Linked DNA regions of Homo sapiens. The protein of the gene in region 2 interacts with the protein of the main gene of each other region in a biochemical or structural test. Each region holds a gene or a part of one and is shown on either strand. Other genes may lie near its edges. The genes, in order: PAFAH1B1, KATNA1, DCAF1 and NDEL1.

What was found.
Region 1: the proteins of KATNA1 (region 2) and PAFAH1B1 form a complex in vitro, tested with the Homo sapiens proteins (one study listed by BioGRID).
Region 3: the proteins of KATNA1 (region 2) and DCAF1 form a complex in vitro, tested with the Homo sapiens proteins (one study listed by BioGRID).
Region 4: the proteins of KATNA1 (region 2) and NDEL1 form a complex in vitro, tested with the Homo sapiens proteins (one study listed by BioGRID).

What each region holds. Positions count from the first base shown.
Region 1 is NC_000017.11:2,673,651-2,680,677, forward strand, and holds part of PAFAH1B1 (platelet-activating factor acetylhydrolase IB subunit beta), read left to right. Parts: intron 1-409; coding exon 410-638; intron 639-2,854; coding exon 2,855-2,956; intron 2,957-6,513; coding exon 6,514-6,670; intron 6,671-7,027. UniProt on the Homo sapiens protein: Regulatory subunit (beta subunit) of the cytosolic type I platelet-activating factor (PAF) acetylhydrolase (PAF-AH (I)), an enzyme that catalyzes the hydrolyze of the acetyl group at the sn-2 position of PAF and its analogs and participates in PAF inactivation.
Region 2 is NC_000006.12:149,596,703-149,603,729, forward strand, and holds part of KATNA1 (katanin p60 ATPase-containing subunit A1), read right to left. Parts: intron 6,672-7,027; coding exon 6,566-6,671; intron 5,051-6,565; coding exon 4,892-5,050; intron 1,649-4,891; coding exon 1,522-1,648; intron 940-1,521; coding exon 805-939; intron 488-804; coding exon 361-487; intron 1-360. UniProt on the Homo sapiens protein: Catalytic subunit of a complex which severs microtubules in an ATP-dependent manner. Microtubule severing may promote rapid reorganization of cellular microtubule arrays and the release of microtubules from the centrosome following nucleation.
Region 3 is NC_000003.12:51,419,999-51,427,025, forward strand, and holds part of DCAF1 (DDB1- and CUL4-associated factor 1), read right to left. Parts: intron 6,011-7,027; exon of another isoform or gene 5,912-6,010; intron 2,434-5,911; coding exon 2,309-2,433; intron 1,000-2,308; coding exon 1-999. UniProt on the Homo sapiens protein: Acts both as a substrate recognition component of E3 ubiquitin-protein ligase complexes and as an atypical serine/threonine-protein kinase, playing key roles in various processes such as cell cycle, telomerase regulation and histone modification.
Region 4 is NC_000017.11:8,452,867-8,459,893, forward strand, and holds part of NDEL1 (nuclear distribution protein nudE-like 1), read left to right. Parts: intron 1-1,929; coding exon 1,930-2,021; intron 2,022-7,027. UniProt on the Homo sapiens protein: Required for organization of the cellular microtubule array and microtubule anchoring at the centrosome. May regulate microtubule organization at least in part by targeting the microtubule severing protein KATNA1 to the centrosome.

The DNA.
Region 1 (7,027 bases), on a different chromosome or scaffold from region 2:
CAAAAAGTAAATAATCTTTGTGCTGGTATACCTCTGTTAGGCTGAATTTGGTTGTGCATAGAATTACACTTGATTTTTGTAGTACAAAGTTACTAGTTTTACTCAGATTAGTAGAGCATAGCTTTTTTCCAATATGGCTGGAAATACTTTTAAGTGTGCATTTAGTTTTGAAAGATTTTATTTCTTATACATATTTTATCTTCTAGATGTTGATTTTATTAGCTCCTTAATGATATGTCTGTTAGCTTATTGTTCCTACTTTAATTAACCAGGATTGTACATTTATTCTGTCGACTTGCATCTCTAACTTGGTACCATTCTCTTCATCCCAGTACATATTTTTATATCACTTCTGGGAAGTGTCCTGATGATTGTCATTCACAGTGTAAGTTATTATTTATATTGACAGCTACTGTGTGAAGACATTCACAGGACACAGAGAATGGGTACGTATGGTACGGCCAAATCAAGATGGCACTCTGATAGCCAGCTGTTCCAATGACCAGACTGTGCGTGTATGGGTCGTAGCAACAAAGGAATGCAAGGCTGAGCTCCGAGAGCATGAGCATGTGGTAGAATGCATTTCCTGGGCTCCAGAAAGCTCATATTCCTCCATCTCTGAAGCAACAGGATCTGAGGTACTGTATATACAAATGTCTTCATGGTTTTATTGCTGATATCTGAAGTCCTTAGATAACTTTGCTAATTCCCTGTTTCAGGGCTGTTAATGCATTTAAAAATCTGCATCCAGCAATTCTGAATCTTGAAATTCTCTACTCTTCACAGCTTGCTGATGTGTTTACATTATTTAACCAGTGATGATTATTGCTGTCAGCCTATCCTTGATTTGATACGTGATGGGTATTCTCCTAAAGAATTAAAATTTATCAGAAAAATCAGTGTTATGAGATCATCTCAATGTAAAACAAAACCTGAGGGAGAGGTTAAAGTTTTCTGTCAGAAAAATAGCCTTCATTAATGAAGATAATGATTTTATTTATAAATTTATGGTAAAATGCAGTTCAGTATTTATTTTTTAAAATTAATTCCAGATGTGATAGTATAAATGTTTTTTTAAATGAAGACTAATCCATATGGCAGCCTCTGATGTTCTTGATCATTTAAAAGTACTAGCTGAGCCTGGAGTTTTAACGCATTTCTTTGTGATCTTTATGGTTTTGGTCTTTATTATTAATATGTTAAAAATTACAAGGTACAGCGGCACATGGCTATAGTCCTAGCTACTCAGGAGGCTGAGGCAAGAGGATCACTTGTGTCCAGAAGTTAAAGTTCAGCCTGGGACAACATAGCAAGATCCCTGTTTCTAATAAATGAATGAAAATGAATGGTCTAAAACTTTTGTTTGTTTTTGAGACAGTCTCACTCTGTTGCCCAGGCTGGAGTACAGTAGCGTGATCTCGGCTCACTGCAACCTCCGCCTCCCAGGTTCAGGCGATTCTCCTGCCTCAGCCTCCTGAGTAGCTGGGACCACGGATGCATGTACCACCCTGCCAGCTAATTTTTATATTTTTAGTAGAAACAAGGTTTTGCCATGTTGGCCAGGCTGCTCTCAAACTCATGGCCTCAAGTGATCCGACCACCTCAGCTTCCCAAAGTTCTGGGATTACAGGTGTGAGCCACTGTGCCTGGCTTCACATTGATTTTGACAGAGGCATTCCTATCATGTATTTTTAAAACTACATGTCAATAAACAAAGGAGGCAGTTTCCTCTCCCTCTACCCCCATCCCACTTATTTTTCTAAATGAATCTTCTCTTGTGAGTTCTCTTTATTTTGATTGGCCCATTGCATTTTGAGATTCTGTTTACTGCCCTCTGGTGGTGGTTACATGCTGTATGTCATAAATTTGATTCTGGTGTGGTGGCTCACGCCTGTAATCCCAGCACTTTGGGAAGTCAAGGCAGGAGGATCACTTGAGCCCAGGAGTTTGAGCAACATAGCGAGACCCCGTCTCTACAGAAAACTTTTTTTTTTTTTTTAAACTCACCACTATACTAATGACGGAAAAAATTTTCAAAAACTTAGCTAGGTGTGGTGGTACACTCCTGTAGTCCCAGCCACTAGGGAGACTGAGACAGGAAGATTGCTTGATCCCAGGAGTTCAAAGCTGCAGTGAGCTATGATTGTTCCACTGCACTCCAGCCTGGGTGACAGAATGAGACCCTGTCTTGAAATAAATAAATATTCCCTAATCCAGATCAAAAAAATAAATAAGTAAATTTGGTTTTGGTTGGATTTGTAAAAGTTAAATTAAATAGTGATTACAGAAATCTTGAAAAGTAAATTTATTATCTGTTGGTTTTATGAAAACTGAGTCCTAACCTAAATAGAGACTTCTGTTCTTACATTATCTGAGTCCTTCCTGTGTAGCATAGGTATGGTGTGAAAGACTTGTGTATTTCAACAGATAAAAACAAATTGGGCTGGGCGCAGTGGCTCACGCCTGTAATTCCAGCACTTTGGGAGGCCGAGGTGGGCCGATCGATCATCTGAGGTTAGGAGTTCAAGACCAGCCTGCCCAACATGGCAAAACCCCATCTCTACTAAAAATACAAAAATTAGCCACATGTGGTGGTGCGTGCCTGTAATCACATCTACTTGGGAGGCTGAGGCAGGAGATTCGCTTGAACCCGGGAGGCGGAGGTTGCAGTGACCCAAGATTGCACCACGGTACTCCAGCCTGGGTGACAGAGCCAGACTCCGTCTGAAAACAAACAAAAAACCAAAATGCAACAAAAAAATTGGAAATATATATCATTATTAGATAGAAGCCATTTAAAGTCCATACCTAACTTCTTGTGTGGGAAACTTAATTTTTATTATGTTTTCTGTAGACTAAAAAAAGTGGTAAACCTGGGCCATTCTTGCTGTCTGGATCCAGAGACAAGACTATTAAGATGTGGGATGTCAGTACTGGCATGTGCCTTATGACCCTCGTAAGTTTGCATAATCTTACCATTTCTTTTGCATCTTCACTGTTTATACCTTTTTGGATTAATGCTTTATGATATCTTAAATAATCTGAATTATTCTGGGCTTTAAAATAACTTCTTTATAAAGATAGTTTTCCTTTAGCTTTTGTTGTTGTTATAGTGATGTGAAAGTTATTTCTCTAGAATGCAGATTCTATAAAGAATCTGTAGAGCCAGTCGGTGTTTGAGGGGGAGATGCTGCTAGCTCACTGTATCTTTAAAAATTGTGTAATATCTCGGCCGGGCGCGGTGGCTTACGCCTGTAATCCCAGCACTTTGGGAGGCCGAGGCGGGTGGATCACGAGGTCAGGAGATCGAGCTAACTTGGGGAAATCCCGTCTCTACCAAAAAATACAAAAAATTAGCTGGGCGTGGTGGCGGGCGCCTGTAGTCCCAGCTACTCGGGAGGCTGAGGCAGGAGAATGGCGTGAACCCGGGAGGTGGAGCTTGCAGTGAGCCGAGATTGTGCCACTGCACTCCAGCCTGGGCGACAGAGTGAGACTCCATCTCAAAAAAAATAAAATAAAACAAATGTGTAATATCTCTTACGGAGAAAAAGCAGCATTCTTAGAGACCTGTTCACTGTTGAAGATGTTTGTTTCTCTGTTTCACTTTATTTATATGAATCCTTTTAACTGTTATACCTCCTTGCTCACATGATCTAGTTTATTTGGCTTATTTAGGAGCATCTGTATTTCCATAGAAAGATATGTCAATACTAGTAAGGGATTGTGGACATTCCTATGTGCCTAAAGGAGTTCCAAGGAGATCTGTGGATGTTTGTTTAGTAGTAGTTTTTATAATTTGGCATCCACATTTGTTTAGAGATTTTTTAGGTGCTAATGATACCTTGAAGTGATTGTCTCTCTGTAGGATATGACAGACATATGTGGAAGCATCTTCAAGAACTGATTAGAAAATGAAACTCTCGGCCGGGCACGGTGGCTCACGCCTGTAATCCCCGCACTTTGGGAGGCCGAGGCGAGCAGATCACGAGGTCAGGAGATTGAGACCATCCTGGCTAACATGGTGAAACCCCGTCTCTACTAAAAATACAAAAAATTAGCCGGGCATCCTGGCGGGTGCCTGTAGTCCCAGCTACTTGGGAGGCTGAGGCAGGAGAATGGCGTGAACCCGGGAGGCGGAGCTTGCAGTGACCGGAGATGGCACCACTGTACTCCAGCCTGGGCGACAGAGCGAGACTCCGCCTCAAAAAATAAATAAATAAATAAATAAAAAGAAAATGAAACTCTCCTCTAGTAGTATTCTGAGCGGAGTTCAGCTATACCATGTTGCTGTTAAGAAAAGATGATATATAATTAAAATAAAGCAGGCCAGGCGCAGTGGCTCACTCCTGCAATCCCAGCACTTTTGGAGGCTGAGGCAGGTGGATCACCTGAGGTCAGGAGTTCAGGACCAGCCTGGCCAACATGGTGAAACCCCGTCTCTACTAAAATTACAAAAATTAGCCGGGCGTGGCCAGGCGCGGTGGCTCACGCCTGTAATCCCAGCACTTTGGGAGGCCGAGATGGGTGGATCACCTGAGGTTGGGAGTTCGAGACCAGCCTGACCAACATGGAGGAACCCCATCGCTGCTAAAAACACAAAATTAGCCAGGCATGGTGGCACATGCCTGTAATCCCAGCTACTTGGGAAGGCTGAGGCAGGCAAATCACTTTAACCTGGGAGGCGGAGGTTGCAGTGAGCCAAGATCACGCCATTGTACTCCAGCCTGGGCAACAAGAGTGAAACCATCTCAAAAAAAAAAAAAAAAAAACCCGGGCATGGTGGCGCACGTCTGTAATCCCAGCTACTCGGGAGGCTGAGGCTTGAGAATCGTTTGCACCTGGGAGACGGAGGTTGCAGTGAGCCGAGATCGCACCATTGCCCTCCATCCTGGGCAGTGAAGTAAGACTCTGTCTCCAGGAAAAAAAAAGAAAAGAAACAAGAAAAACATACTCTTGGCCAGGCACAGTGGCTCACACCTGTAATCCCAGGACTTTGGGAGGCCAAGGCAGGAGGAGCCCAGGAGTTTGAGACCAGCCTGAGCAACATAACAAGACCCTGTCTCTACCAAAATAAAAGTTTAAAAATTAGTCATGCATGATGATGCATGCCTATAGTCCTAGCTACTTGGGAGGCTAAGGCAGGAGGATTACTTGAACCCAGGAATTTGAGGCTTTAGTGAGCCGTGATCATGCCACTATACTCCAGCCTGGGCAACAGAGTTGCTGTCTCTTTTTAAAACAAAACAAAATTTTGCAGTGCTGTGCTATAACTGCACTATCCAGCGTGGTAGCTACTAGCCACATGCAGCTATTATACTCTTGAAATGTGGCTAGTGAGACTGAAGAACTGAATTGTTGGTTGTATGTAATCTTAATATTATATATTAAAGTAGGCGTACATGGACAGTAGCTACCATGTTCAACTGTGCAGTTCTAAGCCTTTTTCTTTAATGTGTAGATGAATGTGCTATTTTTTATAAAAATGGTATCATGCCCCTTAAGGTAGCTTTGTAGCAAACCTTTAATTTAGAAAGTATGTGATCCTTGCTTATGTTGTTAGATGCTCTTCTACACTGATCTACAGACAATGCTTTGTGAACATCTTTGCTAACTAAATCTCTGGGCATGTCCTTAAAGATAAATTGCAAGAACAGAACTGCTGCGACAGGGGAAATATGGATGGATAGATGGATGGATGATTAAATGGATGGATGATTAGATGGATGAATGATTGGATGGATGGATGGATGGATGATTGGATGGATGGATAGATGGATGATTGGATGGTTGGATGGATAGATGGATGATTGGATGGATGGATGGATGATTGGATGGATGGATGGATGGATGATTGGATGGATGGATGGATGGATGATTGGATGGATGGATGGATGGATGGATGATTAGATGGATGATTAGATGGATGATTGGATGGATAGATAGATGGGTGGGTGGGTGGATGGATGGATGATTGGATGATTGGATGGATGGATGGATGGATGGATGGATGGATGGATGGATATATAGATATATAGTGAATGCCTGTATATCCTTCACTTAGTTACCATTTGTTGGTTTTCCTTCATGTATGTGTGTATATTTTGCTGAAATCATTTGAGCGTTCTTTGCAGACATCGTAACACTTTACCCCCAAGTATTTTAGCATGAACCACCTAAGAACAAGGATAGTATATAAATAACCAAAATAAAATTATTCACACTCAAGAAATTTACCATTGATAGACTACATATTGAGATTTGTTCTTGTTATTTCCATAATGCCCTGCGGGACTTCTTTTTAACCCTCATCCAGGACCCAGTCAGGGATCGTACGTTATATTCACTCCTCATGTCTTATGAGTTTTCAGTTTCCTTTAATCTAGAATCCCCTAGACTTTTATTTTCTTCTGGTCTTTTGATGTTTTTGGTATGTATAGTTTTATCGTATTATGAAATAGATGCTATTTAAACATTTTGCCTTTTACTGAGTCAAATAACTTTTTTGTTTTTAAGGTGGGTCATGATAACTGGGTACGTGGAGTTCTGTTCCATTCTGGGGGGAAGTTTATTTTGAGTTGTGCTGATGACAAGACCCTACGCGTATGGGATTACAAGAACAAGCGATGCATGAAGACCCTCAATGCGCATGAACACTTTGTTACCTCCTTGGGTATGTACGCCTCGCGAGGTCTCTGAACATTAGATTTTGGAGTGCCAGACAAACTGTGTTTTACATAATCGTGTGGACTTTGCCAGGTAAGAAATGACTGTGCTTTCAGGGCAGAATAGAGAAGACATGAAAATCTTGTGGATTCCTACCATTTGTTTTAAATTCTCCTTTCCCGTTAACTCTTTCCATCGTTAGCCTTATAATAAAAACATTACTTTCTCCACTGCACAACATTGGTTTTGGAAACCACAATTTGTGAAGAGGTTACTTACCACTCTGATGGGTAATTTTTCTCCCCTATTAGTTTGTTTCTCAAACAAAATCTTCCTCAACCTTTCCCACTGGCAGGTGTATACT
Region 2 (7,027 bases):
AGGTGGGAACCACCATGCCCGGCTAATTTTTAAAATTTTTTTCATGGATATGAGGTCTTGCAATGTTACCCAGGCCAGTCAAACTCCTGGGCTCAAGTGATCTCCCACTTGGCCTCCCAAAGTGCTGAGATTACAGGCGTGAGCCACCACCAAGATATTGATCTGTCTTAATTCAGCATAAAAACTTCACGTCAGAGGATCACTTGAGCCCAGGAGTTTCAGGCTGCAGTAAGCTGTGACTGCGCCTCTACTCTCCAGTCTAGGCAACAGAGCGAGACTGTGTCTCAAAAAACAAAACCAAAAAACTTCATACTAGAAGTTTATGCTTACAAAAACCTATGCTTCCATGATAATTCATACCTGCACACGTTGGTAATGTCCGCACCTGAATAACCTTCCATGTTTTCTGCTATACTTGCAAGGTCAACATCATCAGCCAATTCCAACTCACGTAGACTTATTCGTAATAGCTCCTCCCTGCCTTTTGCTAATGGTAGAAACAAATTTTAAAATGTAAGCCTGCAGCATAAACATAGTATACTATTGTCTCAAATCTTCTTTGTGTGAGATGTTGTCTTCCAGTAAGAATTGGATCTCTAAGAAGAGATAATTAAGTAAAGAGCCATTCTTTACTTTTTAATTCCTTACTATTTAGTATTAAGGCATATAGCCAAACTAGTACTGTAAAGGAAGATACTCCTCATGTATCTCTTCCAGAAAGTTAGTTAATAACAAATTTTAAATTCTCTAAACAAAACTACATGAAAGTTAACAGGCTTTCTGACAAGATTGAAAGGAAGATACCTGACGGCAAAGGAATATAGATTCGTTTCTCAAGGCGTCGTCTTAAAGCCTCATCTATATCCCAGGGAAAATTAGTAGCTGCCAGAACCATAACCATTTTGGAAGGGTCATCATTTTCAGAAGTACCTCCAACACCTAAAATAAGGGTAAGGGGAGAGTGAAAAAGATATTAAGTTGGATTATACCAAATGAAGCTCAGCTATTTAAAGATCAACAACTATTTAGTACAACAATACAAGGAAGCACAGTCTTAATGCCTCCTTAAGACTTAGGTTAACTGGTACCTATGTGAATTTGTAATCCAAAGAAAATGAGTTCTGTAGTATGCAAATATATGACTCAAAATAGATTTAATCGAAAAGCCAGATCTCAAATACATAACAATTTTAAATCTTTTTCAAAGCGTACATAAACTCTAAGGCCAATTTATCTGCATTTATTTTTATTTCAATTTCATAGCTAAAGTAAGATAGTTGTATATACCAAAAGGGTGCCCTGTGTGTGGCCATTAATTCTGACTTGTCACCACTGTCAGTGTACCAAATCTATTACTATCACTATCAGGAACTTCTTGCCACCCCCTCTAGTCCATCTGAAGTTAAGAATACCTATTAAAAGCTTGGGTTAGCACTATGAGTAAAGTTTGACCCACTGGAACTGGAGACACCACACCTAACAACCTCCCGTCCCTGTTCAACTCAAGCTAAACACAGATACCATCCATCTGAACCAGCAGCTCCGCTTTCACCCTTCTGCTTGCTTCATGTTCTTCAGAAGTCCCTCGGCGACTACAGATGGAGTCTATCTCATCAATAAATATGGTGGCTGGAGAATAAAATCGAGCCTAAAGGAAGAAACCATGCAATATCAAGCTATTAAGCTATTATTTCATTTTAAAATAATCTACAGATTAGCAATCAGAAAATAGCTGAGGGAGGCTGGGCACAGTGGCTCACACCTGTAATCCCAACACTGGGAGGGTGAGGCAGGAGGATGGATTGAGCCCAAGAGTTCGAGACCAGCCTGGGCAACATAGCAAGACTCCATCTCTACAGAAAATTAAAATATTAGTTGAGTGTGGTTACACGTGTCTGAGTCCCAGCTACTCAGGAGGCTAGGTGAGAGGATCCCTTGAGCCCAGGAGTTCAAGGCTGCAGTGAGCTATGATCACACCACACCACTGTATTCCAGACTGGGTGACAGAGTGAGAACCTGTCTCTAAAACAAGAGGAAAGAAAGAAAACAACAAAACAGCTAAGGAGCCTGCCACACTGTGCATCTTTCTCTCACGCTAATACTGGGGAGATGGGATAGAATTAGAACAGCTAAAATATGGCTTCTAATGAACCGTTTTTTATTTATTTATTTTTTTTTAAGAGGCAAGGTCTTGCTCTGTCATCCAGGCTGGAGTGCAGTGATATGATTTTGGCTCACTTCAACCTTGAGCTCCTGGGCTCAAGCAATCCTCTCACCTCAACCTCCCGAGTAGCTAGGACTACAGGTGTGTGCCACCACACCAGGCTTATTTTTATATTTTTGGTAGAGATGGTGTCTTATTATGTTGCCTAGGCTGGTCTCAAACTCCTAGACTCAAGCAATCTTCCTGCCTCGGCCTCCCAAAATGCTAGGATTACAATGAGCCACTGTACCTAGTGGGATAATTTCATCTTTAAAGAGAGTCAATACTTGGGTCTTTATGTATAAATATTTTTGTACTTTTTCAACAAATGGAGAGAGGGAAAGAGTGAACTTCATCATCATTAAAACATCCAAGAAAATTCTCAACTAAAATTTTAGGAAGCATCTATCAAAAGCACCTACATCAACAAAAATTAAACTTCAGTCTGTTGCCACACCAAGCAAAAGTGACTAGACTGATTCTTCCCACATACTGAGGTTATGTAGAATGATCTGACTTCAAGGAAAGGCTATGTGTCCTGGGTTTAGCTGGCCCAGGAAGGTACGGTAGAGGACACCAATTGGTTCTCCCTGCACAGCACACTTCTGGTAAGAGAAGCCTCTTTTTCATTTGCAAATCATCCCTTTCTTTCTTTCCTCCCCTCTCCCCTCTCCCCTCTCCCTCTCTCTGTAACCTCTGCCACCCCGGTTCAAGCAATTCTCCTGCCTCAGCCTCCCAAGTAGCTGGGATTACAGGTGCACGCCACCACACCTGGCTAATTTTTGTATTTTTAGTAGAGACGGGGTTTCATCATGTTGGCCAGGCTGGTCTCGAACTCCTGACCTCAAGTGATCTGCCCGCCTCAACCTCCCAAAGTGCGGGGATTACAGGCATGAGCCACCATGCCGGGCCCCTCTCATTCCTATTCCACTACTTCAAAAGAGGCTAACTTTACTTGGAACTCCAGGGGTTTTATTCAGACCTGGCCAATCAGAGCACTCCAATTCTCTGACCAAAAACAAGGAGTTTCGGCATAGGTATGAAACTCAAAACAGGCCAAATATTAATCTTTGGACTTTTGCTGGAACTATGACAAAATGAGGGCTAACTTTGCTGAGAGTTCATTACCCTAAGGACAATAAAAATAAGGCTTGAAAGCTGAGTGCAGTGGTACACGACTGAAGTCCCAGCTACTTGGGATGCTGAGAGAGGAGGATGCAGTATGCTATGATTGTGCCTGTGAATAACCACTGCACTACAACCTGTGCAATATAGTGAGAGCTTATCTTAAAAAAAAAAAAAAAAAAAAAAAAAAGCTGAACACAATGGCTCTTGCCTGTAATCCCGGCACTTTATGGGGTCTAGGCAAGAGGAGTGTTAGGCCAGGAGTTCTAGACTGCCTGGGCAACGTAGTGAGACTTCATCTCTACAAAAAAATCAAAAAAGGCCAGGCGCAGTGGCTCATACCTATAATCCTAACACTTTGGGAGGCCAAGGTGGGCAGATCACCTGAGGTCAGGAGTTCAAGACCAGCCTGGTCAACATGGCAAAACCTCATCTCTACTAAAAATACAAAAATTAGCCAGGCATGGTAGTGCACTTGTGTAGTCCCAGCTACTCAGGAGGCTAAGGTGGGAGGATCGCTTGAGGCTAGGAGGTGAAGGCTGCTGTGAGCCGAGATTGCAACACTGCACTCCAGCCTAGGTGACAGAATGAGACCCTGTCAAAAAAAATAGAATTCATGTCTTGACCAGGATTGGTGACCCATGCCTATAAATCTAGCACTTTGGGAGTCTGAAGCAAGAGGATCACTTGAACCCAGGAGTTCAAGATCAGCCTGGGCAACACAGCAAGACCCCATCTGTAAAAAAAAAAAAAAAAAAAAAATGAGCTGAGTGTGGTGGCTCATGTCCATCATCCCAGCTGCTTGGGAGGCTTAGATGGGAAGAGCACTTGGGCCTGGGAGGTCACGGATGCAGCGAGTTGTGATCATGCTCCTGCATACCAGCCTAGGCAAGACTGAGAACCCATTTCAAAAAAAAGAAGATTCACGTCTTTGTCACTAATAGCATAACTCTATCCTAATTACATAAAACTACTCTGTTTCTTAGAGGCAAGAGTGACGTAATCAGTGAAGCTTAACAAAGTCTGAAGTTTAAAAGGCTGTGGAATTCAATCTAAACACTCTACCAGAACTTGTTGAATTACATTTCTTCTATTGGTACTCTGATTTGTATTGGTGGAAGAAAGAACCTAATCCAAAGATTAGGTCATTAAAATGAAGGCATTTGGTGCAGTTAATAGATCGGAGGTGACCTAAGTTCCACAATAAATTATGATTCTCACCTTTTGGCATCATTGTTACAATACTGTGGTTATCATATTATAACTAAACCTATTGATTTAAAAAACATAATTTCAGATTCCTACAGAAGATTAGTAATGCAGATCCCATAATGTGAGCATGCCCCAAAACTGGTAGATTTGGATCTACATCTGGAGAAAAAGAGACAAAGAGAAACTCTAATTATTCATGTTTGTAAAGAAATCTAGCTTTAAGGGCATAGGACTCATACTCTGGGCAAAATGGCATCCTGCCTAACTATTCCATATACTGGAGATAGTTACAGCTCACTTTCTCCCCTTTTAGAGAGGTAAAGAATCATTAGAGCTGTCTCAAACATTCACCATTTCAAACAGAAGACGAACAAGCTTCTCAGATTCTCCTCTGTATTTGGAAGTCAAAGTTGATGAAGAGACATTGAAGAATGTTGTCTTGCATTCTGTAGCTACTGCTTTAGCAAGGAGCGTCTTCCCCGTGCCAGGTGGGCCGACCATCAGTACTCCCTGTTGCGAATATAATAGCCTCAGCAGAGGATTTATCTGCCATTGTTCTAATTCATAAAAGTGTCATTACTAAGTAGCAAATTTCGACCAACTTATATATAATATCAAGACAAATAAAAGACAAACAGATAAACAGGAGGATACTTTGTCACAAATTTACTCTTCCCGTTAAAAAAGAAGATAACCACATTATGAAAAATTTGGAACTCAAAGATGAGAAAAAGTAGTTTATAATATCAGCACCCTAACAGAGGTACCATTAGCATCTGGATTTATATCCTGATTGTCCTTTTGCTCAGACAAATTAGGTTGTTTAAAAATATAACTTATTCGGCCAGCCATGGTGGCTCACACCTGTAATCCCAGCACTTTGAGAGGCCGAGGCAGGCAGATCACGAGGTCAGGAGATTGGGACCATCCTGGCCAACATGGTGAAGCCCCGTTTCTACTAAAATACAAAAAAAGTTAGCTGGGCGTGGTGGTACATGCCTGTAATCCCAGCTACTCGGGAGGCTGAGGCAGCGGAATCAATTCAACCCGTTAGGCGGAGATTGCAGTGAGGCAAGATCGCACTGCACTCCAGCCTGGCGACAGAGCGAGACTCCATCTCAAAACAAAACAAACAAAATACATATATATATATAATTTATTCAAAGTATATCTATCATTTTGTATCTTGCTTATCACTTAATGTATAAAGGATTTTTACAACTATTCATACATGCAGAGTTACCTATCAGTGTGTTTTCCAAATCCAAGAAAAGCTTTTTTGATGGTCTTTTTTTAGATCAGCCCATGACTTTAAAAAGTATTTATCACATGCAGATATTTCTCATTAATTTATTGAGAACAATCCCCAAAATACAGGTTACAATCATGCAACATGACATATAAAATGGAGTGTTTTTGCATTAGCTGACTAGGTCATATTTGCAAATATGAGCTCATTCTAAATGGGGTGAATTCTAATTTTTTTTTTTTTTTTTGAGACAGAGTTTCGCTCTTGTTGCCCAGGCTGGAGTGCAATGGCGTGATCTCAGCTCACCACAACCTCCACCTCCCAGGTTCAGGCAATTCTCCTGCCTCAGCCTCCCGGATAGCTGGGATTACAGGCACGCACAACCACGCCCGGCTAGTTTTGTATTTTTAGTAGAGACGGGGTTTCTCCATGTTGGTCAGGCTGGTCTCGAACTCCTGACCTCAGGTGATCCGCCCGCCTCGGCCTCCTAAAGTGCTGGGATTACAGGCGTGAGCCACCACGCCCGGCCAAATTCTAAATTTTAATGCTGTGTATTCAACTTTCCAAAGATCACATTGTATGTATTTCTTATTCTAGGAATCATGCAACAGCTTCTGGTCTAACAAAATTCTCAGTAGCACAACATATACCTTTTAATTTAAACATTTCCTGACTCCACTTTCTCCCTCCACTTTTCCCAATATAGATAAATATTGGCTCTCTGTATCAACATGCTGCCATTTACTTTGACAATGCCATCACAGTAATAAACTTACTTTCCATGGTCTCCTAATGCCCTTAAAGAATTCGGGCATCCACATTGGTAACACTACGGCTTCCTTAAGCAACTTTTTAGCTTCTACTAAATCAGCGATATCATCCCTGAAAGAGAAGACATTTTATTAACAACCCTTTAGATGATACATGTCTATGCAGTCACTCTTGAGAACCACTGGAAGCACATGATGTTGCACTGCTGACAGAATGGTGAGCCTCTCTCTGAGCCCGGGTGAACTAATGCACTGTGATGAGGCCCACCATGTCAACCAGCAGATATATAAAGAGCACAACCTTTTCTTCAGTTATTGGCGGTTGACAGTTTTTAGCCTGGATCACGAGAACATAGTCTACAGGCACACTCTTCAGGGTTATGTGTCAACTCATTTTAAACTCCTGCTCTTATGGTCCTCATTCCATAATCTCCATGATTTAGAAACAATGAGCCCATGTATTTTAAA
Region 3 (7,027 bases), on a different chromosome or scaffold from region 2:
TTATGGCTGGGCTTTGGCTGTAGGCACCATGGTCCGACTTCTGCCGCAACACTCTGATTTTCCTGCCATTGCAGGGTGATGGCCTCTCTCTGATAAAACTGATTCTACCAATCAAAGGGGAGTTGCCTGCATAAGATGGGCCGGGCAGAGCTAGCGGACCCTGGGGGGGCCGTGGCTGAGGATGAGCAGTAGGGGCAGAAGGCGCAGAGGCACCCACAGCAGCATGGCTGCCCAGACGAGTTGCAATGCCATTAGCGATACGAGGGGTTCGGGGTAGAGAGACAGGAGAAGCAGCAGCAGTGACTGGGGTAAAGGCAGAAGAATGGGAGGCAGCAGTCATGGGCAGGTCAGCCTCTTTTGTCAGCACGGTTGCTGTTTCTCCAAGCCCTTTAGAAATAAGATGGTTTCGTATCAACAAAAGCAGCTCTTTCTCAGGGAAGGAGATCCTTGACTGGGCAACAACATCTGCTTTCTGCAGTCGTGCTAGGGAAACATCAGTGCCAATGAGAAGTGGTTTTCCTGACACCCGTTCAATGAGTTCAGCAGCATACTTGCAGAACTTGACATGGTCACTGCGCTTGTCCTGCAGCACAGGCTCCTTCATCAGCTGCTGGATCTGGCAGCTGCTGAAAAGGGGCAGTTTACTGATGATCTGCCGGACAGTGCTACTGCGAGACAGGCCCACTAGGGCTTTGCAGGCCAGGGCCCGGATTTGGTCTGCATCTGTGATGGGCATCTTAATGGACAGTAAGGACAGGAGCACCTTGATGCCGTTGTTGGACTGAACCACATTCCACATCTTGGCCAGGGTGTGCTCACTGCTTTTAGGGTTCTGAGGCAGCTTTCTCCGAGGAGTACCAGAGATAAATTTACCAATACTGGATATTCGGTTATCTGGGCCACACACACAATTGATGATAATCTGAAGTGCTGACTTCTGAATTTCAGCATCATGGATGAAGAACTCACCCTCAGCCACTCCCAAAATAATGCTGATACCTAATGGGAAAAAAAATTATGTATTATTCACCATAAAACTAATGGCCAACTTCAATAGTTGTTCCAGAGTCAAAATTTGGTGTTCTACTCACTTTTACTTTAAAAAACTATATTACTTTTGTAAAAACTGCAAGGGTTTGTATAAAGTGCAGACAGTTCTACTACAATGTATTTTTATGGTATCTCATATGCAGTTATTAAATAGGGAAATCATGTCATAATTATGGAAAAGTAATCAAGGTTCATGTGCAATTTTTTCTGGTTTTATTATTTTTTTGAGGCAGAGTCTCGCTCTGTCGCCCAAGCTGGAGTGCAGTGGCGTGATCTTGGCTCACTGCAACCTCCGCCTCCCGAGTTCAAGTGATTCTCCTGCCTCATCCCTGCAAAGAGCTGGGATTACAGGCGCCTGTCACCACGCCCAGCTAATTTTTGTATTTTTAGTAGAGGTGGGGTTTCACCATGTTGGCCAGTCTGGTCTGGAACTCCTGACCTCAGGTGATCCACCCGCCTCGGCCTCCCAAAGTTTTGGGATTACAGGTGTGAGCCACTGTGCTCGACCTTTTCTGGTTTATTAATTTTAATACACTAAAACCTTAGGAACGGAGAAAGCCCTCGGTTGGGCTGCTACTGTGGAAGCAGAACCCTTTCCACTCTATTTTAAGAAAATTAAAAACCAAGTGCCTGTGTCTTAGTCCTATCCTGCATCTTGTCCCATCACACGACTTCCCATGCTCACCCCAGCAGTGCCCTGATCAGCCTTGCTCTTAATAAAGTATATTATCAAAGTATATTTTCCTTTTTTTATATATGTATGACGGTTTCTACCCATTTTGAGCTACCTGCCAATTACTGACTCAGGTTACAAAACTGCTTACTTTGTTGTTTTTTTTTCCCTTTAACTCCTGGAAAGCTGTGATGCTTAAGTTTTTTACTATCTGCCTCAACCCATTTTTCCCATGAACTTTATTTTTAGTGCAAGACTCTTCAGAGTGTGAGCTTTTCAGGAAAGCTATAATATACCATTATAGCAGAAATGCCAGTACCACTCAGAAAACCTGAGTTTACTAGCATGACTCCCTTACATCAAACTATCTGGTCCTACATTTGTATTTTTGTTTTTTGGTTTTTTTTTTTAAATTAGTTCCTGATCTGCTGAATGGTACTCCTTATAAAGGACAGACAAGGAGCCCCCCTCTACTACTTCTGTTCTAAAATCCAAAATTAGGTCAGGTAAGTAACCAAGACCAGAGTGGCAAAGAAAAAACAAATCCAGACCAAGAAACAACAAAAATGGCAAAGTACAACCTACCTACAGTAGAGACTGTAGATCCAGCCTCATCCAACACGTCCACTGATTCTGCCAACTGGAGCTGGATTTTTGGCACCACAGTAAGAATAGCCAGGACATCCAAAGCAAAGCGCACAGTGTCATTCCTGGACAGGAAGAATTAGTCAAAGGGAAATTAGAGTATAGCCACAAGAATCAAGAGAGACAGAGAGAGAGACACACAGACAGATAGACACATACACACAGAGACAATAAATCAGAAGCACTACCAGTGTGGCTCTATCTCAAGCTGTCGCATCAAGAGAGGATTTTATAGTCACCATGACATTACTTCCAAAAAATATAGCAATGGAATTTTTACCTATTAAACTTCTATGATAAAAAACATAGAATAATCCTGAATCCTTTCATCCTAGTGAAAACATATAGAGACACGTACTCTCAAAGTTTTGGTGAGAGTAGAAATTAGTACACTCTTTCCAGAAAGTAATCTGGAGGCCAGGCACGGTGGCTCAAGCCTATAATCCCAACACTTTAGGAGGCCAAGGTGGGAGGATCACTTGAACCCAGGAGTTTGAGACCAGAATGGGCAACATGGTTTTATCTTTTTCTATAAAAAAAAAATATAAGATATTAGCCGGGTGTGGTAGCACGTGCCTGTAGTCCCAGCTTCTCAGGAGGCTGAGGTGGGAGGATCACCTATGCCCAGGAAGTTGAGGCTGTGGTGAGCCGTGATTACACCACTGCACTCCAGTCTGGGCAACAGAGTGAGAGCCTGTCTCGAAAAACAAAAAAAAAGAAAAATGAAAAAAAAGAAGAAAAAGAAAGTAATCTGGAAATATGAAACAAGATTCTTAAAATGTTCATAAACCTTGTCCTAGAAATTTCACCTCTGACAATCTGTCCTAAAGAAATAATCAGGCCAGGGCCAGGCGTGGTCTCATGCCTGTAATCCTAGTGCTTTGGGAGGCTGAGGCGGGCAGATTGCCTGAGCTCAGGAGTTCAAGACTAGCCTGGGCAACATGGCCAAACCCTGTCACTACTAAAATAAAAATTAAAAAAATAAATTACCCAGGCTTAGTGGCGGGCGCCTGTAGTCCCAGCTACTCGGGAGGTTGAGGCAGGAGAATTGCTTGAACCCAGGAGGCGGAAGTTGCAGTGAGCTGAGATTGAGCCACCGCACTCCAGCTCGGGCCACAGAGAGAGACTCTGTCTCCACAAAAAAAAAAAAAGAAAAGAAAAAAGACTCAGGCCGGGTGCAGTGGCTCACGCCGGTAATCACAACAATTTGGGAGGCTGAGGCAGGCGGATGACCTGAGGTCAGGAATTCAAGACCAGCCTGGCCAACATGTTGAAACCCCATCTCTATTAAAAAATACAAAAACCAGCCAGGCATGGTGGTGGGCATCTGTAATCCCAGCTACTCAGGAGGCTGAGGCAGGAAGAACTGCTTGAATCTGGGAGGCAGAGGCTACAGTGAGCCAAGATCACACCACTGCACTCGAGCTTGGTCAACACAGTGAGACTCCGTTTCAAAAAAAAAAAAAAAAAGAAAGAAAGAAATAATCAGAAGAATTTATGTATTAAGATGTTCATTAGCCACATTAAAATAGCAAAAGAATGAGAAAACCCACATAGACAAGAGCACCATATGTGTTAGAGTATAGTACACTCATAAACTACAGCCATTGACAATCATTTTCAAAGAACCCTAAAGAATGAGGGAAAGGGTTCAAAATACAACATTAATGATATAAAAATAAAAAATGTAAGATATAAAATTAAAAATCTGACAATACCAAGTACTGGCAAGAAAGTAGAGAAATGTTGGATGTCTTTTGTAGTTAAAAAAGAAAAAACCGGCTGGGTGTGGTGGGAGACCAGGGCAGGTGGATCACGAGGTCAGGAGTTCAAGACCAGCCTGGCCAATATGGTGAAACCCTGTCTCTACTAAAAATACAAAAATTAGCTGGGCATGGTAGTGGGCGCCTGTAGTCCCAGTTACTCAGGAGGCTGAAGCAGGAGAATCGCTTGAACCCAGGAGGCGGAGGTTGCCATAAGCCGAGATTGCACCACTACTGCACTCCAGCCTGGGTGACAGAGCAAGACTCTGCCTCAAAAAAAAAAAAGAAAAAAAAAAGTAGAGAAATGAAAGCTCCTATATATTGCTGGTGGGGGATGACAATGGTATGAACATTTTTAGAAGCAATTTGGCAATATCCAATAAAGGTAAGAACACAGACACCCTACAAACCAGATGCTCTACATCATATCCTCAAGAGAGCCTCCAAAAGGAGGTTCATGATACCATTTATTTAATAGCCAAAAAAACCAAACAAAAACACTAAATTAGCCATCAATGGCAGAATAAACTGCAGTATAGAAATACAGCATTTTAAATAAATATCAACATATATAAATCTCAAGAATATAAGGGTAAAAAAAGCAAGCTGTGAAAGATGAACTTAGGAAAATATTTATAATTTAAAAACATGCAAAGCAGTATGACGTTATTATTTATGAACACACAGATATATATAGTATAAAAACATGAGTGGGGAGAATATGGTTCAAATTCAGAAGATGGGTGACTCTGGGGAGGCAGAAAAAGAACTGAGCCAAAAGCAAATACAACAACATGCCAATCCTGGTTAATGATGGAGCAGTTGTTAAACTATTCTCTGTGCCTTTCTATGTTTTGAAAATATTCATAAAAAAGATGAATTTGATTAAAAGTATAATATTAATTATGTGTATTTGCAAATATTACGTAGTGAATGCTAAGAGTAATTTTCTTTTCTCTTTAAAAGATTCTGCATATTCTAAAGCAGAAACATTTATTAATTTTATTTCTAAAAATAAATTTTTAAAATCAAGGACATATTTTTTCAATAATCCAAATACAGGCCGGACCGTGTTTCATGCCTATAATCCCAGCACATTGAGAGGCTGAGGCAGGCAGATCACTCAAGGCCAGGAGTTCGAGACCAGCCTGGCCAACATGGCAAAACCCCGTCTCTACTAAAAAATGCAAAAAGTAGCTGGGCTTGGTGGTGCGTGTCTGTAATCCCAGCTACTTCAGAGACTGAGGCACAAGAATCACTTGAACCTGGGAGGTGGAGGTTGGAGTGAGCCAAGATCCTGCCACTGCACTCCAGCCTGGGCAACAGAGCAAGACTCTGTCTCCAAAACCAACAAAAAAATAAATAAACACAGATGTACCAGTTTAAAAAATGTATTTATACCCTTTCTAGTTATCTTGTAAGCTGTCATCTTTTTTTTTTTTTTTTTTTTGGAGACAGAGTCTTGCTCTGTTGCCCCGGCTAAAGTGCAGTGGCACCATCTTGGCTCACTGCATTCTCTACCTCCTGGGCTCAAGCAATCCTCCCACCTCAGCGTCCCTAGTAGCTGGGACTACAGACATGCGGCAACACACCAGGCTAATTTTTTTTATTTTTGGTAGAGATGGGGTTTCACCATATTGCCCAGGCTGGTCTCGAACTCCTGATCTCAAGCAATCTGCCCGTCTCAGCCTCCCTAAGTGCTGGGATTACAGGTATGAACCACCACGCCTGGCCTATCATCACTTTTTAAACAATTCTCCAAATAAATATAATAACCTACTTTTCCAATATTCTAAAACAGCACTTCTCAAAGTATAGTCTGGAGACCTCTAGAAGTCTGAGACCCTTTCAGAAGGTCCTGTGAAGTCAAAGCTATTTTCGTAATAATAAGATGTCACTTTCCTTTTGCACTCTCATTCTCTCATTGCATAGTAAGAGAGTCTTCCAGAGATGATGTGATGTCACAAAAACTGAATACAGAAGCAGATATGAGATATTAGGCCAGACATTTTTTCAAACTTGCTAAAATTATCTGGTTTTATTTTGGAAATTTTTCATGAATAACGCAAACATGCAATGGGTTCACTTTTTTTTTTTTGAGATGAAGACTTGCTCTGTCGCCTAGGCTGGAGTACAGTGGCGTGATCTCAGCTCCCTGCAACCTCTGCCTCCTGGGTTCAATTGATTCTCCTGCCTCAGCCTCCCAGGTAGCTGGGACTACAGGTGCGTAACACCACCCCCGGCTAATTTTTCTATTTTTAGTAGAGATGGGGTTTCACCACATTGCCCAGGCTGGTCTCAAACTTCGGACCTCAAGTGATCTGCCCACCTCGTCCTTCCAAAGTGCTGAAATTACAAGCATGAGCCACTGTGCCTGGCCCACATTTTTAATGCATAAATATTTTTACATTTTCTGTTTTAATTTCTAATACTGATAGATATAACACAAAAACAAAAGCCTTTTAGAGTTCTCAGTAATTATTAATATGGTAAAGGTATCTTGAAACCAAAAAGTTTAATAACACCTGCTCCAAGAGTACCTTACAATATTTAAATGCTGGGATTTAACAAACTTACTATATTCCCCTAAATAAGCCCCTCTCTTATCTTTATGGCAGTGAGTGAATAGGAAAAGAAGGTCAAGCACTCTGTTTATAAACTTTTTTACTATCTTCTCTTAAGACCCCATCTTTTTCAAAACAGTTTTATTTCTTTTTATATCATCTTCAAATAGAACCTACCCAGTTTCCTGATTACATCAGCCACCCTTTTCTGGGCCTTGTCCTGCTCTGCCTTAAACTAATTTGTGAAAATCCTAACAGTATGTCGAATTCCAAGAGTAAAAGGACAATTTTATATGAACGTAATATAAACATTATATATGGTTGTCAAGTAG
Region 4 (7,027 bases), on a different chromosome or scaffold from region 2:
GTAGCTGGGATTACAGGTGTGTGCCACCACACCCAGCTAATTTTGTATTTTTAGTAGAAATGGGGTTTCACCATGTTGGTCAGGCCAGTCTCAAACTCCTGACCTCAGGTGATCCACCCACCTCAGCCTCCCAAAGTGCTGAGAGTACAGGCATGAGCCACCATGCCCAGCCTACAATGTTTGTTTCTAAAAAGCATTTAAAGCAACTTACCATAAAAGCACAGATTTAATAACACCTAAAATGTAAAACTTGAATAGGGAAAAATGAGATCTAGAAATCCCTGCCAAGAACAGTACAGCGGTTTTTTATATCACGTTGAGCGCCTGTTATGTGTCATGTGTTATTCTGGATGCTGGGAGCACAGTGGTAAGACAAAGCCCCTACCTTCAATGAGATTATATTCTTGAGGAGAAGAAGGATAATAAACAACAAAAAAGCCACACAAGTATTTTCGTTGCTGATTAGCACTCTGTGGAAAACAAACATAAAAAATAATAGCTAACCTTTATTGAGTACTTACTACGTGCATTTTTAAAGTACATTAATTTAAACTTCACAACATCTTTATGATGAGGTAGTTGTTATTTGCCCCCTCTTACATATGGGTCACTTACCCAGTGGCTGAACTGGATTTGAATACAGTAGTTCAGCTCAAGAGCCGTTAATCATGATGTCATATTATCTCTTAAAAATTAAGAAATGTGCACGACTGAAAACCTTACTGAGTGTGGAAGAAGATATGGGTAAATATCATGGTAAATACTATGATTCTGAATGGGAAGACTTAATTTTCTTACAATATCCATTCTCCCCAAGTCAATCTGTAATTTCAACTTCTAATAAAAATCCTAATAGGATTTAAAAAATTGATATGTTGATATTAAAATTATTTTGGAATAGTAAATGTGCAAGAACAGCTGAGAAAAATTTGAAATGGGCTAATAACAAGAGGGATCTTTGCCTTTTGAGATCTCAAAATATATTTTAACATTATAATAAAGTAGCATACTTCTGATAGAATAGGCTAATAGTTCAATGGAACTGAAATATATTCATATATTTAGGGAATTTAGTTTATAGTTATAGTGCTATTTCAGATGAGATGAGTTTTCCCTAAATGATACTAGGACAATTGGCTCTCCATTTGGAGGAAAAAATTTAGATATGTATCTTATAGACAACTATAATTTCTAGGTGAATTAAATGATCTAAATGTAAAAAAATCAGAAAAATACTAGGAGAAAGTATGGGAAACATTATGACATTAAGATGGAAAAGCCAAAGGTTCTCCTACCGAAACACAGTGTTTACAAGATGAATGTCACGCTGAGAGATAGAACATCTATAAGAGAAAGGGTGAACATCCAGAATGTATAGAGTTCTTACAAATTGATTACAGGAAAGACAAACCAGTAGAGAAATGTACAAAGACTAAACAGCTGATTTTCAGAAGAGATTCAAATGACTAGTTACTATGGAAATAGAAACTAAAAAACGTGACTATCAAATTGTCAAAAAAAAAAAAGATAATATCTAATATTATCAAGGGCACCACCGCATAGATTGCTGATATTAGCACAGGCTTTTTAGAGAGCATTTTGGCAGTGTCTGTTAAGGTGAAAAAAATGGGCATATGTTCTGACCCAGCAGTTCTATTTTTAGGAATCTCTTTTCCAGAAATACTTGTCTAGATGTTTAAGAGTATATGTCCTTGTAGCATTACTTATAATGGCGAAAAATTTGATATAATGTAAATATCCACCAATTGGACAGTGGTTTAGCCTATTTATGGTATCTATACTTTATCCATAGTTTGAAGTAGTTTGTTGATATTGTATTGAGTGTTACACTACTTTGTAACATCAACAACAAAACCCAAATGTAAAGGGAACTGCAAGTGTAATCACTCAGCTTTTATTTTTCTCTAGCTATACCAAATGGTTTTGGTACCAGTCCACTAACTCCCTCTGCTAGGATATCAGCACTAAACATCGTGGGGGATCTCTTACGGAAAGTAGGGGTAAGTTTCAATTATTTATCACTAGGTGTTTCCACTGACAAGGTATTGAATTATTTCTTAATTTGAAGTGAGGGAAGAAAGAAAGGATACTTTCCTGTGGTAAAGGCTGTCATGAAGCTCAGAAGCAAAAGCATCCATTGACTAGCCAAGTCCAGATGACACTTCATGATGCCCCTGCAGAAGAGCCTGTACCTTGAACTCTGAGGTTCCCACCGGGGCATTCTTCCTGTTCCCCACTCCTGTTTCAACAGCACGATGCCTCTGTCCTTGTCTAGAATACTTTGTCTAAGGCCTGCTGTGTGTCTTCTACCACCCTCATCCTGGTCTTTGCTGCTGTCTACCGTCTTCCTGGTCATTCCTTTGTTTTGTGTTTGTGGGACTTTAACATTTGGCTCATGGCATTACTCTCTACTTTTAGTCTTGCCCACCTTATTTCCTTGGCCACCTCAACTTCAGTGCCTTCTCCTTGGTGTGAGCCTTGTATTCCAGAACAGTTTCGCTTCTGAAATATTAAACCCAGCCGGACGCGGTGGCTCACGCCTGTAATCCCAGCACTTTGGGAGGCTGAGGCGGGTGGATCACCTGAGGTCAGGAGTTCAAGACCAGCCTGGCCAACATGGTGAAACCCTGTCTCTACTAAAAATACAAAAATTAGTCGGCATGGTGGCAGATGCCTGTAATCCCAGCTACTTGGGAGGCTGAGGCAAGAGAATCACTTGAACCCAGGAGGCGGAGGTTGCAGTGAGCCGAGATCGAGCCACTGCACTCCAGCCTGGGCAACAGACAGCAAGACTCCATCTCAAAAAAAAAAAAAAAAAAAAAATTAAACCCGTTTTTCTGCTTAATCAGTGTGTTACTGTGTACCATACCTACTCTTTAACCTCATCAAGAGTATTACCCCATTTTTTAGTGTGTTTGTTTTTATCAGCCATCTCTTGCTTTCACTTCCTTTCTATTCATCTGTGATCTCACACATCTCTTACTCTGTCACTGTTGACTTCATGGTCTCTCTGGCCACAAAGGAGATCTGCAGTCTGAATTACTGGAAACAGTTGCAGAACCATGTGGATTTATGCCACTATCAAGTCAGCATTTCTAGCATTAGCTCCCATTACTATTTCCCTTAGTGAGTTTTACCTCTCCTTTCAGTAATCAACCATTGCCATTTCCCACTATCTACTACCCCCTTCACTTATTTTCGTGTGTGACACTTTCTAAAAAATGTAGAAATTGCATTATACTTTATCTAAAGCAGATATGGGAGGCCAAGACACAGGTCCTATGTTTGCCTGTTTCAGCTCATCATAGGGGTTATTTTCTAACCATCAGATTAAACCTGCATTTTTAAGGTTAAAATACAAAGTAAAGTGCACAGGTCGTTCCTACAGTACATAGAGTAATCTTTCTTCACTCCCAAGATAACCATTTTAAAATCCTCTATGTTGGAGTATTTGTCTTTATAACTTGAAATCATGTGCTTATTTTTCTGTTTATCTTGATTTACTCAACTTTAAGCAAAGATATTTTTATTTTTATTTTTTGTTCTTTTAAAAAAATTACTTTAACATTCTTGAACTTTTGTTTCTGAATGTATTAGGTTATATCTTTTTTTTTTTTTTTTTTTTTTTGAGAACGGAGTCTCGCTTTGTTGCCAAGGCTGGAGTGCAGCGGCACGATCTCAGCTCACTGCAACCTCTGCCTCCCAGGTTCAAGCGATTCTCCTGCATCAGCCTCCTGAGTAGCTGGGATTACAGGCACATGCCACCACACCTGGCTAATTTTTGTATTTTTAGTAGAGACGGGGTTTCACCATGTTGGCCATGCTGGTCTTGAACGCCTGACTTCAGGTGATCTGCCTGCCTTGGCCTGCCAAAGTGCTGGGATTACAGGCATGAGCCACCATGTCTGGCCAGTATTAGACTATATCTTAACTCGCTGTTCTCTCCCTTTCTTCCCCACCACACTCCCACTCCGCTTTCCTTTTCTGAGCCCTCTACTAGCTGTGTGAGCTCTCTGTTGGTTGGTTCTAAAAATGGAAAAGTAGTCAAACAGCATTTGTAACAATGCACATATATGTGTTATTTACTGTGTAATCACAGAGGAGATGCTGGACTTTCAGATGGGTCTTTATATTTGTGCCATTCAACAAATGTGTTTTGAGAATTTTGTTCTTTAACTGTAATTTACTCAAAATCATACTGGGTTTTTAAATATTTCGTATTGTAGCTGACTGTACGCTGCTTTCTTTTCCTAGCATTTCTGTTTCCCCTTCTTTCTTTTGAGTAGAAGAAACCTACACCTTTCTTTGCTCTCGGATCTTCTAGCTTCTTCTTCACACTCTTTGTGGGATGCCCTGATGGGCTTCGAGGGCTGCTGCATTGTTGTCGCCCTCGAATTTCTCTCCATTTTACTCTTGGGTTAGTTCTGCCTGTTCCTCACCCCACGTTGTTGTCTGTCTTTGTTCCTTGTTTGTTTTGCTTTAGTACTTTAATTTATTCAGAAGTGGTGCATGAAAGTTTAATTTGGCATCCTTGTATGGTTTACACATTCAGCTGACAATCCGTCTTCTAAGAGTTATCAAAATAACGACCTCCAAAAGTCATCAACACTTTGGGTCTGCTGGTGTCCACCAGCCCTTGTTGGCTTTTATGAATATTTCATTTATGCCTCTTTACACGACTTTGTCCACTGACTTGAACTGGAAGCCCTTCTCCACTCTTGCATGCCTTCACAGAGAAAATCAAGGCCATTTGTTTTAAGCTTCTTTGATTTCTTTTCTCATCTTTTGTTATTACTCTCCTATTATTACCTCTATTTGTAGCCATTCCTCCTTTTTGTCCCAGTGGTAAAAGTGCAAATTCCTGTCCGTGGCTAATTTTGTCCATCTGTGCTTTGGATCTCATTTCTTCCAACCCTTAAATCTTTATTTCTCCTGTATTTCAGCCTTTTACTATATATGCGTTAATATTTATGTATAATGTTTATGTATTACACATTATATGTTATGTGTTATACAGGTATACTTTGATATTTCTGTATTACATGTTATCCATATAAATATATGTAATACTTATGTGGTACATATTACATACTTTAAAGCTTCTTGAAAGCGTGTCCCCATTTATTGTTAGCATTTTGACTGCATGCACACGCCCCAGACACTTTAGCCTGGGCTCTGTCCCCTGCTTATGCCGCTAAAACTGCTCACTGGTGATCTCAGTGCTGTCAAATCCTGTGGATGCCGTTCTGTCCTAATTTTACTTGAAGCATTCAACACTGACCGTTTTTTTTTTTTAATGCCCTCTTTTCTCTCCTTCTCTGATGCTGTTTCATGGCTGCTCCCAACTTTCTTTCCATTCCTCTTAGTCATCTTGTTGGGTCTTCATCTGCTCACCCTTTCGATATTGGTTTTACTCAGAGTTCTGTCCTTGATTTTCTGATCTTAATCACAGCCATAGTTTCATCCACCCCTGGGTGTGGATGTCTTTCAAATCTTAATCTCTAGACCACCCTTTCCCCCCTCAAAAGACCTGGTGCTCGTGCTTGGATGTCTCACTGATGTCTCAGACATAAGTTGTGCCTGCCGTGTGATAGATACTCAATATGGATTTGAATGAATGCGTGTCTTGAATATAGGAATTGAATGGCTCTCAATTTCTACTGTGTGTGTGTGTGTGTGTGTAGCTTTAATAAGCTGCTGAATTATTGCTGAATTATGCTTATTCAGAGTTTGTTTTACAAGGTCATTACCTCTCTTCCTTTTTTCTGTTGTCATTTTAGTAGGTCATTGTACTTTTGTCATAGGAAAGAAGGAGAAGAAAAAAGTTTGTCTGTTTTTGTTGCTGTTTCTTTTTTTTGAGACAGAGTCTCACTCTGTCGCCCAGGCTGTAGTGCAGTGGTGCTATCAAGGCTCACAGCAATCTCTGCTTCCTGGGTTCCAGTGATTCTTGTGCCTTAGCCTCCTGCGTAGCTGGGATTACAGGTGCATGCCACCACACCCAGCTAATTTTTTTATTTTTTCTTTAGTAGAGACAGGGTTTTACCATCTTGGCCAGGCTGGTCTCGAACTCATGGCCTCAAGTGATCCACCTGCCTTGGCCTCCTAAAGTGCTGGGATTACAGGAATGAGCCACTGCACCCAACCATTGTTGCTGTTTCTGAATAGCTGTTATTGAAATGTGGGGGGAGGAGGTCCAAATGGATTCTCAAAGTGAAGTATATGTTACCTGTGGATTTAATTTAGCTGTGCATTCCCAGTCCTTTACTGTCATGGATAATAGACATGAATTGTGTATATATATATTTTGCCATGGATAGTATTTTTCTTTTCGGAGAAGGAGGGGTTTGATTTGGGCAAAGTGTTTATGGGAAAGAGACAGCTGGTGAAGTGTGAGTGTGTGGAAATACATGAGAAACGCCTGATCTCTCCATGTCATCTGCGTTGGTAGAGCCCTGTGCTTGCCAGGTGTTGTGGTGACAGGTGCAAAACAAGGGTGCCCAATTTAGAGGTAAATGCTAAAAGGCCAGTGTCATTTGCGGGTGAATTATTTAATTACAGACAAAGGGTATCAGTTAAACATTTTACAGAGTGCTGTCAGAAATAAAATAGCTTTTAATTTCATGTAAAGTGTTGTAAATGTTCTCATCCATTCTCATGCAGTAGAAAAAATGAAGAACCTAGAGAAAGAATTGGCTGCCGTAAAAAAAATTCTCAAGTGATATTTTTGGGTTTTTTAATAGTGCTTGCTCCCAAAACACACCCTGCCCCCCAACACCAACTAACAGTCTACAGCTTAGAAACGAGCAATGGATAGGGTCAAGAGACCTGGGATCTGCTGTTCCACCTCCTGTACCACACTTTTTTTAGTTGTAAGGGGAAGATTATATGTATTTCCTTCAGTAACGCTAAGAGGAGGAAACAAAATATTCTGAGGTCATTAGAAAGGGAGCATAAGTATTCCCCCTTTTTATTAGAAAGTTGATTGATTATGGCTGAACTAACCACC